2 linked regions of the Homo sapiens genome follow. The protein of the gene in region 2 purifies or fractionates together with the protein of the main gene of each other region. This does not show direct contact. Each region holds a gene or a part of one and is shown on either strand. Other genes may lie near its edges. The genes, in order: SSC5D and CDC42SE2.

What was found.
Region 1: the proteins of CDC42SE2 (region 2) and SSC5D purify together in Homo sapiens (affinity purification with mass spectrometry; one large-scale study listed by BioGRID and IntAct). This does not show direct contact.

The regions. Positions count from the first base shown.
Region 1 is NC_000019.10:55,494,910-55,498,728, reverse strand, and holds part of SSC5D (soluble scavenger receptor cysteine-rich domain-containing protein SSC5D isoform 1 precursor), read right to left. Parts: intron 850-3,819; coding exon 532-849; intron 1-531.
Region 2 is NC_000005.10:131,378,839-131,382,657, reverse strand, and holds part of CDC42SE2 (CDC42 small effector protein 2), read right to left. Parts: intron 1-3,819. UniProt on the Homo sapiens protein: Probably involved in the organization of the actin cytoskeleton by acting downstream of CDC42, inducing actin filament assembly. Alters CDC42-induced cell shape changes.

The sequences.
Region 1 (3,819 bases), on a different chromosome or scaffold from region 2:
ACATGAGCTGTGAGCTATTCAAAGACCAAGACCATGTTCATTCCATTCATGAGCCCAGCATGAGGACCCTGCACCTGGCTCAGCCTCTGCAATTTAATAACAGGCATTGCCTGAGTTTATGTTAACTGGCTCTCACTTTGGCTTCTTTCCATCTCCCAGTGCCCTGCCTGCTTCCTTTCATCGTAGGAAAGCTAAAGCTCCTTTCTTAGTGGGAAATTTCCTTGATTCCTGGAAGGAAGAGGAAGCAGAAGCTTCTCTGAGTGGGAATCCCAGATCTGCCAGTTAGTTGTTGCTGTGTGATCTTGAGCAAGTTACCCAACCTCTCTGTGCCTCAGCTTCTTTATCAGTAAAATGGGCATAACACACACCACCCTAGACTTATTATGTGATTTCAATGTGGTTATATGTGCAAAAACACCCAGCACAGGGCTGGGGCTTAGGAAGCACTCAATCAATGTTAGTGCCCATGTTAGTTACTGTTCCCCTCCAGGAAGCCCTCCTGGAGTCAACAGATAGCTAGGGCCTCCTTACCAGTGCAGGTGACCCCAACATCCTCATTGTGAGCGCAGTTGTGCTTTCCCCAGGGAGCAGCAGGGCAGTCGGACAGTGAAGCCTCGGTCCCCACACAGCCCACATCATCTAGCCAGATGGGGCCCGCACCCCAGCCAAAGCGGCCAGCAGCAGGGTCTGGCTGCTGAGGTCCACCACAGCCCAGCTCCCGGCAGACCACAGCTGAATCCCGCATGTCCCAGCTATCGTCACACACGGTCCCCCAGCGCTGGTCATGCCACACCTCCAGTCGACCTGAGCACTTGCTGGGCCCAGCCACCAGGCGCAGCTGGGGGGACCCTGGGGTAGAAGAGACCCAAAGAATTAGAGTCGGGGAAGCCGCCCAGCCTCCTGACTCTTCATCCACCTTTCCCTCCCCCCATCTTCCTTTCCACTCATCCATCTAGGCCTTCCCTCCATTCATCCATCCTTTCCTCCAGGCAGCAAGTATTTCATGAGGCCTTTTTTGTGCCATTTTCTGCATTAGGCATGAGGGATAATGAGTCAGGCAGAGTTTGGAGGATCCTCAAAAAGCTACACATCAAATTACCATATAATCTAGAAAGTCTGCTACTAGGGATATACCCAGAATAAACTGAAAACAGGTATTCACACAGATACCAGTATGTGAATGTTCATAGCAGCACCATTCACAGTAGCCAAATAGTAGTGGTTGTACAGCATTTTGAATGTATAAATACCACTTAAGTTGTATACTTAAACTGGTTAACTTTATGTTACATGAATGTCACCTCAATTAAAATAAGTCTTTTTCCATGCAGTTGTTCACCACCCTTAATTTTCTCTCATTATTATTGGTTTAATAAGGGTTTTTTTCTTCTTTCTTAGATTTTATTTTCCTAACCACTAGACCACCAGGGATAATAAGGTGTTTTGTTGTTGTTTATGAGTCAGGCACAGCCTCTGCTTTGAAAAGCTCTCGGTCTTCAGGGAAAGTAGCATGCACACACTTCATTACAGCTCAGCGAGCTAAAGGGAGTAGTGGAAGTACCCAAAGGGCAAGGCAGACACACAACGAGGAGAAGGTGAGAAAAATTCTGCCTGAGGAAGCTGGAGAAGGCTTCTCAGAGGAAGTCCTTTAAAAGACAGGGAGCAGCAGGCCCGGCACGGTGGCTCCCACCTGTTAATTCCAGCACTGTGGGAGGCCCAGGCGGGCAGATCACCTGAGGTCAGGAGTTTGAGACCAGCCTGGCCAACGTGGAGAAACTCTGTCTCTACTAAAAATACAAAAATTAGCCAGGCATGGGCCAGGTGCAGTGGCTCAGCCTGTAATCCCAGCTACTCCGGAGGCTGAGGCAGGAGAATCGCTTGAACCGGGAGGCGGAGGTTGCAGTGAGCCAAGATCGTGCCACTGCACTCCAGCCTGGGTGACAGAGCGAGACCCTGTTTAAAAAAAAAAAAAAAAAAAGACTGGTAAAAATGGTAAACTTTATGTCATGTATGTTTTATCACAATTGTTTTTTAAAGAACGTGCGCCCTGGAACAAGTGTTTTTGCTTGAATCCTGGCTCTCCCATTTCTCAGCGGTGCTGCCTCATCTGTAACATGGAGACCTATCAGTATCCACACCACAGTGGCTGTAAGCATCACCTGGACTGAGACACGGAGAGAACTGGGAACAGCATCAGTCACCAGGAGCCAGTGCATGCTCGTTCAGTGTTAGCTGATATTATTATTCAGGAAAAGGGGAACGAGACCTCTGGGAATGGTGATCATGGTGAAAATAAGTTGCTGCTTTTGTTCGGCCTTTTCCCATCTTGAGGAGACAGCTGTGTTAACCACGCCTTTTTATTTTCTGTATTTCTGATGCTTTGACATCTTGGAGCATTCCTGATCCTGAGGGACTGCCCCTCCCAGGGTTAGCTAATTCCTAGAGATGGTAAATGGCTTGAGCATGCCTTTCGTGTGCAAACCACCCTCTCCACTGGGCTCTCACACCCTGGGCCATTCTGCACCTGTCCTCATTGCCCCAGGGCCAAGTACCAGATGACTAAGGACAACCCTCTGAGTCGCCACCCTCCCCACCGGCCCCACTGAAATTCTTCAAACCAGCCAGTTCTAAGCCTGCTCAACCTGTCTCACCTATTCCTTCCTGCAAAAAACACAAGAAAGACCCCTGCACCTGGCCGGGTGGCTCACGCCTATAATCCCAGCACTTAGGGAGGCCAAGACAGGAGGATCACCTAAGGCCAGGAGTTTGAGACCAACCTGGACAATAGTGAGGCCCTGTCTCTACAAAAAAAAAAAAAAAAAAAAAATAGCCAGGCTCGGTGGCATGCAGCTGTGTTACCCAGGAGGCGGAGGTGGGAGGATCACTTGAGCCCAGCAGTTTGAGACTGCAGGGAGCTGTGATTACACCACTGCACTCCAGCCTGGGCAACCAAGTGAGACCCTGTCTCTAAATAAATGTATAAAAGATTCCTGCCATGCTTCCCCCTCACTCCGTCTACCTCCTGCCTGGCCCTGGTGCTTCCCTGTGTGGCCCCGTGTGGCACGCCATCCTCTTGAGAACCGTCAGTCACAATCTTTTTAGTGGCTGTCATCTCCTGAGATCCTGGCCTCACCATACCTCAGTAATAATAACACCTATATTTTAAAACAACAGTCCTTTCAATACTCATGAAAGAGACCAGGCACGGTGGCTCACGCCTCTAATCCCAGCACTTTGGGAGGCCGAGGCAGGCAGATGGTTTGGGATCAGGAGTTCAAGACCAGCCTAGGCAACATGGCAAACCCCATCTCTGCAAAAAAAAAAAATACAAAAAATTAGTAGTCCCAGCTACTTGGGAAGCTGAGGTGGGAGGATCACTTGAGCCTGCAGGTTGAGAGGTTGAGGCTTCAGTGAGCCATGATCACACCACTGCATTCCAGCCTGAGTGACAGAATTAAATCCACTCTCAAAAAAAAAAAAAAAAAAAAAAAAAAATATATATATATATATATGAAAGGAGGCAGGCAGAACCATTGATCACATTTGCTAAAGAACCAGAGACTCTGGAAAGTAAAGGTAATGTTTGAGCAGGGCTGTTCCTTGAAGCTGGCCTGAGTACCCCATGATGGATCCTACAGCCACACCGTGCAGCTTGGGAATAGAGCAGACTCTCAGCCCAGCATCCTTTCTCTTATCCAGGACTGGCTACAGAATTTTGGGGGCTTGGTAAATGACGAAAGTTAGGACCCCTTGTTCAAGAATTATCACACGCTCCCAGACGCAACAGCAGAGCATTGAACCCAGCTCAGTGTCCTGGGC
Region 2 (3,819 bases):
TGCTTCTGATATGCAGAGAGAGCCACTTGGCTCTCTCAAGCAGGGGAGGAGGTGGTACCAGAGAATACTTCCTGGTACCTACTTCCAGACCACTAGGAGGAGTCTTGATCAACCCTTGTCCTGTGAACCTGCAGAAGCAACTCCTAACAGTTCTCATTCTGCATCATTTCCTCCAGAAGGGTGTGTTTAGAGCTTGCCAAAAGGCTCCACTTGGTCTATACCTCCATATTAAGTGATTTATTCTGTTGAGTTACTGCAGGACTGTGTTGGGGGAGAACAGAAACCATAGTGTGCTCAGGCCACCACCCATCTCACCCAAAAAGAATGAATAGATATGCTTGTGAAAGAAGGGTATTAACACATACTCACAAACAATAATTCAGCAAACATGATTACTGAGAATATTCAAAAGCTGATAACAAAACTAGTTCCCAAGAAGCTACTCTGACACTGAAAAGCAAAGGATGGGAAGACTTCAGCTTACTTCTATCATACTGTGTTATTAGATAACTAATATATATGAATGTGAAAATAATAGTGAGTATTTTTCAGCTTGAACTATACTGAGCTGGGAGTCACACCTTAGTATTGGAAGGTTTCTTCATGGCATCTAATCTAACAGTTTGTGAGATATGAAAGAAGCTTTCAGTCCTTCGCTCCCCAAGGCTGAGGGAACTCAGCTGTCCAGAAACTGAAAGGAGCAACTGTGTTGTGCGAGCATAGTAAAGGTAAACACCTAAGATGAAAATAGTAAGATAAGCAAGAACCAGATCACATAGAGTTTGTAAAGGACTGAAGTGTGTGATCCTCCCAAGAACAATGGGAAATAATTGAAAGTGTTTTAAAGCAGAGGAATAACATGATTAAATAGCTTGAGAAGACTATTCCACAATAGCTATAGGTGGAAAACATGTTAGAAGAGGTCAAAATAAGTTATTAATGTTGGTGAAAAGGGATTATGTGGATTCAACTAATAACACAGATAGAAGTGGATAGATTCAAGAAGTAGTCAGTGGATAAAATCAACAGCATTTGGGCCGGATGTGGTGGCTCACGCCTGTAATCCCAGCACTTTGGGAGGCCGAGGCGGGTGGATCACCTGAGGTCAAGAGTTCGAGACCAGCCTGGCCAACACAGTGAAACCCCGTCTCTACCAAAAATACAAAAATTAGCCAGGCGTGGTAGCAGGTGCCTTAATCCCAGCTACTTGGGAGGCAGAGACAGGAGAATCGTTTGAACCCAGGAGGCGGAGGTTGCAGTGAGCCGAGATCGAGCCATTGCACTCAGGCCTGGGGGACAAGAGCGAGACTTCTCTCAAAAAAACAAAAAAAAAAACAAAAAAAAACAGCACTTGGTTGCAGGCTGGATTTGGTAACAGTGAGAGGGAGGAGTTAAGAAATATGCACAGACTTCAGATTTCAGCAGAGAGTGTGCAATTCACTGGGTTCTGAGAGAATCCAAACTGGAGATAAGAGACTGAGAATCACCAGCATTAACAAAGCCAAGTTAATGAGATTTCCTAGACAAACTAAATTTCTGTGGTTGGGCAGAGAAGAAGCCATCAAAGAAGGCCAAAAAGAAACAGCCTGAAAGTCAGTAGGAAAATCAGCAGTGTGTACAAGTGTCAAGAGGGAGCAGAGCTGAAAGGTGGTGAGAGGTCAATTAAAGACAAATACGTGCAATGGATTCAGCAATATCAAGTCAATGGGCACCTTAGTGAGTGCTATGTCAGTGGAGTAATAGGAGGAGAAGACACGCTGCAGGGGACTGAGGTGGGTCTAAGAAGTGGAAAATGGAGAAAGAGAACAGAGACAACTCTGGAGAAAAGTCTGGCCTTCTGGACAGGAAGAAGACAGGTCAGTGGCTGAAAGGAGAAAAGGAGATGAGAACAGATTGAATTTTTCCCCTGTAAGATGGCAGAGAATTCATTATGCTCAATTTCTAATGGGAAAGATCCAGTAAAAGAGGTACAGAAAAAGAAGGAAAAAGAAAATGGATTGTCAACCTTACAAGGTTCCTGAGAAGGCAGGAAAGGTGGATCTAGACACAGGTGGAAGTGTTCTTTACACTCTTTCCTACAACACTCTATCAAAAACCTGGATTTAAATATAAATAAATATTCTAAACTATAAAAATGCAGTATTTTAAGGCACAATGTGGACATTTAAAGAATGGCACACTTGTTTGGGGTACTGTATAATAGTCACGGGTGGCTGGGCATGGTGACTCATGCCTATAATCCCAGCACTTCAGGAGGCTGAGGCAGGTGGATCACTTGAGGTCAGGAGTTCAAGACCAGCCTGGCCAACATGGCGAAACCCTGTCTCCACTAAAAATACAAAAATTAGGCCATAAGAATGATCAAATGGACTTGGGGCTCTGGAAGAGTGGGAGGGGGGCAAGGGTTTTATAAAAGACTACAAATATGGTGCAGTGTACACTGCTCGGGTGATGAGTACACCAAAATCCACAAATCACCACTAAAGAACTTACTCATGTAACCAAACACCACCTGTAGCCCCAATAACTATGGAAAATTAAATATTTTCTTTAAGAAAAAAAAATTAGCTGGGCATGGTGGCAGGCACCTGTAATCCCAGCTACTTGAGAGGCTGAGGCAGAAGAATCACTTGAACCTGGGGTGGGGGGTTGGCGGGGAGAGGTTGCAGTGAGCCGAGATCACACCACTGCACTCCAGCCTGGGTGCCAGAGTGAGACTCTGTTTCAAAAGAAAAAAAAAGAATAGTCATGGGCAAACAAGGGGAATTCCAGAGTCAGACCTCCGCAAAGAAAAACAGGAAATGGTGCACTCTGCTCTGATACGTATTAACAGTTGTCGTTAGCAGAGTCACCGTGTTTCCTGGAAACAAATTCTTTATAGGAAACTTTGTTAAGACCGTCAACCATCTGAATAATCCTTGCATCCTTAAAATATTAACTTTTATTCTGCATAAGGTGAAGGACTAGAGACCCAAATGAACTGCTATGTTAGTGTGGAGGGGACATTAGGCAAAATGTCTCTTCCCATAACTTTTTACATAATTACATCATAATTATTAAAGATAATGAACTAAACAATTTGGAGTATATCCAAGGAGGCGAGAAGCAGGTTAATTTCAAAGGATTTGCTACTGTGAGAACCTTATTTGCATCCTTATCTAAACAATATGTATATAACCATACTATATCTACCTCCCTCACATTTCTGGCATATGGATCAACTGTAGCTTCTAGAAAACAGTAATTACATCATCACTTAAAAGTTAAAACTTTCCCAAAGACTATTCTCTGGGCAGCTTAGTGTGCAAACACATGTCACTGAGAAGCAAATGAAGGCCAGGTCCCATCAGGTTAGCAGAAGGCCTACAGTAAGAGTAAAAGATGGTACAGCCTGAGGTAGTTCTAGAAGCAGATACAGAGTGAATAAAGAAAATGAAAATACTTGCCATCTGGGACAGTGAAAAAAGCTGGAACTTTCAGGGTATAAAATAGCAATCATTTATGCAAATGTGGCCAAAGTAAATGAAAGGTTGAAAGCTATGCTGACTCAACTTTATGACCTAGAGAAAGTCAGTTGAGTTGTGTAACTAAATCCCTAAATCTATGAATTAAATCTAACAAGCCCACTATTTCCAAATTGTGTCTTGGGGCATCCCAGCAAAACCCAGGGGTGCCAGGGTTTTCTATTTGAGGGAAACACAGTGAGGCTCAATGTGTGTTTGACACTGAGTGAACTACCAGCTTCAGATAATTTGTAACTTCAACATTAGAACATACATTCTTTTTAACAGCATATCTTTGTGAAGCTGAGTTTTCAGT